2 separate regions of the Homo sapiens genome follow, and region 1 is linked to region 2. A link means that fine-mapping ties the variant in region 2 to the expression of a gene that starts in the linked region. Tissue or cell type: whole blood. Region 2 holds a variant in brackets; the other region holds the start of a gene. All regions are shown on one strand. Distances are from middle to middle.

Evidence for each region. PIP is the estimated chance that this variant, and not a neighbour inherited with it, causes the effect.
Region 1: CHORDC1 starts here. The variant in region 2 is the best candidate, but not a certain one, in a credible set for the expression of CHORDC1 in whole blood (GTEx, PIP 0.53).

What each region holds. Positions count from the first base shown.
Region 1 is chr11:90,221,375-90,224,406 of GRCh38, reverse strand. It overlaps CHORDC1 (cysteine and histidine rich domain containing 1), which reads left to right and starts at 1,358. Exons shown (of 11, transcript NM_012124.3): 1 at 1,358-1,516. The coding sequence starts at 1,453. It overlaps LOC124902812 (a long non-coding RNA gene), which reads right to left and starts at 1,248. Exons shown (of 2, transcript XR_007062978.1): 1 at 987-1,248.
Region 2 is chr11:90,199,002-90,201,501 of GRCh38, reverse strand. CHORDC1 (cysteine and histidine rich domain containing 1) reads left to right here. Exons shown (of 11, transcript NM_012124.3): 11 at 1-1,073. Among named protein-coding and RNA genes, the nearest start is that of CHORDC1, 23 kb to the left of the region's middle. The variant A/G (reference allele first, on the strand shown) is at 1,061.

The sequences.
Region 1 (3,032 bases), 23 kb before region 2:
GTAAATTGGTACCACCTTTCGGAAAGCAATTGGCTCTATATATCTTTAAAATCTTAAAGTTATTTAAAAAGCCTTATGCCCTTTACCCCAGAACTGTCGCTTTCCAAAAATTTTCCTAAAGGGGGAAATTCGAAATAAGAAAAACAATACACAGGTTGAGCACTGTAACTTATATATAATAAAGTTGGGGAAATTAGAGAAAGGTTAAATTACAGTGCATTTATTCAACAGAATACTCCGTCATTTGTAACAATGACTATGAAACAAAATAGAAAAATACTCACGTTAGGTTAAATGAAGAAAACATACCTATCTATGGTGGATCACAATATGAAAATTTAATACTTCTAGGTAGAAGAAGAGAAAGAGAATATGAAAAACTAAAAAGTCTTTAGGGGTAGGAGGACGTGAGCAGATCTCTAAATAACCTTGAGATCAATGGAAACAGTGTATAGATTTTTAGGTTCACTTATAAGCTGCTGATCTTATTTTAAGATCCTTCAGTATATGTTATCAAAAAGTGTTTGCTTTTCTTGCAAACGCCCATGTTTGGGAAATATGCAAGTTGAAGCCAATGCATTACTGTACTTTTTATAATGCACCTGAAGTTTTACTAGCTGTTCCAAGAGTGGTGTACTGAGTATTGATAAATCGTTTAAGTGGAGGCTCACATGAAATATTAACTATTACCCCAGGGCTTTAGAGCAACTGTGATCAATTCTGGCACAGCATCAGATCCATAATTTTCTTTGCTACTCTGATTTCTACGTTTTTTGTATTTTCAAAGTAATGTGACCGCAACTGTTAAGTTATTAAAATTGCTCCTGAGATGAGGGCACTCGAGACACAAACACACGGAGAGGTTCGTCCGCTATTCCTCTCATTTACTAAGCTCACACGTCTACCCTGAGGATTTGGAAACACTGTATGATTCTGCACTTACTGTGCACTTATCCCTTAGTGCTAAGGGGTAAACAGATACCCACCGGGCTGTCTAAGGCGCAGCCTCAAGGCAAGGAAGAAGGGTGCTGGGTCGCAGGGGATGAGAGGGCGGGGCGGCCACTTTGCTGCAGGAGATACCCAAAGCCAGTTAGCACTGAGGAAGTCAGAAGAGAATTGTCAGTCTCTCGGACACCTTCATTTTCTGCCCCGGAAATTTCTCCTCCGCTGTTGTCTGGGCTCCACTTCCGACCCCCAGTTGCTACCAGCTGTAGTCCGACCTATCGTGGCCCGGGCTAGTGCCAGCCTCCCGCCGCTACCTCCGCCTCGTCCCTTCTCCTCTGCGCCTGCGCGACCGGAAAATTCGCGAAGGTTCCTGAAACGCAACGGATCGTTTCCGGAAGCCGGTAGCCGCCTCAGTCGTCAGACCGGTGCTAGCGACACGGGAGTGGCAAACGCATCCTCTTGCCGTTCCCGGTGTTTGGGCCTTGCCTGTGACGGTGGGAAAAGAAAATGGCCTTGCTGTGCTACAACCGGGGCTGCGGTCAGCGCTTCGATCCTGAGACCAATTCCGACGGTAAGAGGAACGCGCCGCCAGCCCTCCCTCCCCTCCACCTCATCAGCAGGGGAGGCCCTTTGGGCCGGAGGGTGTCCGCGGATCTCCTGCAGCCGTCCTCGCGCGGCCCCAGGTCCATGCCCCTCCTGGGCCTCCCTTGGCTGCCCGCGCAGCCCGCCGGCCGCCCCTCTGTTGCGCCGCGTTCCCTTGGCGAGCGCCCGGCCCCGGCGCCTGACTGTCCTCTGCCACTGCGGAGAGAGACGCTCCCATGGATCCACGTGTTTCCCCCGTCGTCCCCGCACTCCTTTTAAGTCGCCTGGAATTTAGAACGAACACGTTTCTCCTCTGGCCCTCCAGTCTCTGGGGAAGCAAAAATTAACGAGGTACTGGTGAGCTTGCTTTGTAGTTCCCGAAGTAGTGATGGCTGTGATTGCCTGCGCGAGAGGGAGAGGTGGCCGGGATGAGCAGCGGGTTGTCCTAGCATGTAAGCTCTGCCTTGTAGAAGTTTGTGTTCAGTCGATCCGCTGTTACAAACCTCTTACAAGTGTTCTTGGTAAGGGACATTACTCTGTATCTTCACGCTGTTTTGATAGGTTCATCCTGGTGGTACGTTAGTTATCTTTTTATTACTAGCGGCATTTGTTGCTTGTTCTTCTTGTGGCCTCCACGTTTTACTACCATGCCTACTCCCGTATAAAATGAGTGAATGTCATCTACAGCACCTAGATGTCGAGTTAAGGATCCAAAGCGAAAATGACTATTAGGTGAAGGACGGGAAATGATCAGTGAATTGAAATTTTGATTGACAAAGAAGTGAGATGATTCCTTGCGTATCGTGAGAAGTGACAACACGTTTTCAGATTGAACTAGCATTTAGTTTATATTTTCTGCATGCCAGCCATTATTGCTTTATCTTATTTAATCTTCATAACCACCCTGGGACGCATGTAATGTTAATTAGACCCATTTGATAGAGAAGCTCAGTTCAATGAGGTTGTATTAATAACATCCTTCATTATTGTGGAGGAGATGAAAACTGATGCCTTTTGAACTCTTCACCTCTGAGATGTTTGAAATACTTATTTTTGGCACACAGGTAAATTGATAGCGTTATTTAAAATAAGACCATTGATACAGAGTTTTAAGGAAAAGGAAAATCCAACCTATGCAATACTCAAGTTACCGCCACTGACATTTTTATGATGCAAATATGATGCTACTCATGAGGAAAATTGTGAGATTTCAGTCGATGACAAAATCGAGAAACGATTTTAAAGCCCTTTGGTGTTGGCAGCCTATGTAAAACATTAATTGCACTTATGTCTGCAGATATTCTACTTTAATATAGAATACAGGGGAAAGACTGACGCTTTGCTTATGAGACAATAAAGTTCAGGGGCGATAGTCATTTGTTGGAAGTCTGTATCCATGTGTGAATTGGTGCAGTGCCTAGGAAACAGAAAGCGACCAGGAAAACCGTCTCAAAACTTGGGTGGTCAGCAGTACTAGTTACAGCAGAGAAATTCCAATAAGTATA
Region 2 (2,500 bases):
ATATGGAGTTGCTTTATGACTATTACATGTTAAATAAAAATAGCTTAATTGTTTTGGAGTTTTTTTTTAAAGTCATGAAGAGCTTCACAATTCTAGTGATACAATGTTGACTATATATTGTACTTTATATTAAATATAGGTAATACAGAATTAGATCGTTTGGATAGGTTTTGAGTTAGTGCAGAACTCAAGAAGAAAAATTAGGAAATATTCTGAAGGCCAGAACTCTGGAAGAACTTAGAAAGTTTGGGAATAAATTAAACTTATGTAGATTTAAAATTAAAAGGGGTTTATTTCCCAAACCCCTTGAGTCTTTTCTTTTCCTTGGTATTTATGGAATTCTTACAAAGAAAAATTTGCAGAAGTACTATTTTCGTGAATAAAACATATGTATCATTCTACTACCATTAGCAAATAACTTAGTTGTAGTTAATATAATTGTTAAAAGGTTTAGCTCTGTTACAAATAAAAACATAAAGATCTGGCAACCAGACTTTCATGATGTTACATTACCATGACAAGAAACTCTGGGCAGTAAAAGTTGGACCCACATGGAGTACATAAGCATCTGATACCTGGAGATGTATTTAAAATTTTTCAAGTTATCTTCCATGATTTAGGAACCATTTAGAGACATGAAGTCTTTATGGGTTGGGGGAAAGGTTGATAATTAGTTTGATTAAAGGTAATGATTAATATCCCTTTTTGTTCATACTTCCTTCTGAGGCTGTTTTCCCCTAAACAGTATCTTAATCTGTTACATGTAATTGAAATATTATTTGAAGCAGTGAGTTATTGTAACCTCAGATTAGTTACATTGATCAAAACATTGATTTATACACACACACACACACATACATATGTAGCTTTTATATTTAGTCTGGTTACATTAGTGACCATGGTATTTACTTTCTTCTTAAGGAGCCTTTGAATTTCTTGTCCAGATAAAAATCCGAATATTTCTCTTAGACTCATACATAAAGGGACACAGTTATCGTTAGGTAGCATATGTTTTACTATCGGTTTGTCAAAAAAGTTAATAAAAAGTGCTTATTGATTT[A/G]TTTCTCTAGAAATTTGCTTTGTCTTTTTTAGCATTAAAAATAATTACTATAGCAAAGCAGTCAAAGTTAGGTATATTATATATATACTTGGTAACTAAAGATGGGAAACCTAAAATGCTATTTTTCTTTCATAGCACATTTACTAGTATAAAGGAAGTAAGATCCTAATAAACTGAGCCTTTATTTAACTTCTTTGACCTAGTTTTAGGTTTACAGAAAAGTTGTAAAAATACAACAGTTCTTTATGTCTTATATTAATCTTAATGTTAAAATCTTACGTTATCATAGAACATTTATAAAACTTAAGAAATTAACCTTTGTATAATACTATTAACTAAAGTAGAACATTTTATTTTTACCATCTGTTTTTAGTGGAATTCTTCAAGGTCTTAAGACTTGTCCTACTTTTTTGGTAATAATTTAAGCCAGTAATTTATAAACAATTAAGATATGATTAGGAATCAACAAATGTTTATAGGTTGAAGATGTAACTTCTTGGTGTAACTATACTGGCAAAGGACTGTAATGATTTTACTTTATTCTAATTTATATTTTATGCAAGGATTTAATTAAGAATTTTCTTCAGAAAATTATTCAACCATCAAAGTGTAGAGAAACTTAAAGAGTTCTTGCAAATATTTTAAAGGGACTTTGAGTTATTTCCCCTCTCCGAACTCCCAATTTTTTTTTTTTTTTTAATCAGTTATTCCTCAGCCTGAAAATTTATGTCATGCGTATACTCACAGTAAGTAAACTTTTTTTTTTTTATTTTTTTTATTTATTTATTTTTTTTTTTTTGAGACGGAGTCTCGCTCTGTCGCCCAGGCTGGAGTGCAGTGGCGGGATCTCGGCTCACTGCAAGCTCCGCCTCCCGGGTTCACGCCATTCTCCTGCCTCAGCTTCCCAAGTAGCTGGGACTACAGGCGCCCGCCACTACGCCCGGCTAATTTTTTGTATTTTTTTTTTTTAGTAGAGACGGGGTTTCACCGTTTTAGCCGGGATGGTCTCGATCTCCTGACCTCGTGATCCGCCCGCCTCGGCCTCCCAAAGTGCTGGGATTACAGGCGTGAGCCACCGCGCCCGGCCAAGTAAACTCTTAAAAGCTCATTTATGAGGGCTGGTGTCCCTTTTAGGATATATGGGTATGTACTCTGTAAATTTTGTTTTTAGCAGTCAGGTACTTTTAAATTATCTATTTGAACATTAACAGGGTTTTTTTTTGTTGTTCATCTTTTATGGCAAATTATTTTGACTTGGCATTCATATTTGTTATTTACTTTGTTTTCACCAGTATAATTCCATGGCCTCAGTTTTGAAATGCAAGCTATTAAGCCCAGCTTGTTTTTAGGTTTTGTTAATAGGGTTTTCTGTTTCATTTGTTTTGATTGTTTGATAGGTTTTTTGTTGTTGTTGTTAATTATCCCTGACTGCTTCCCTAC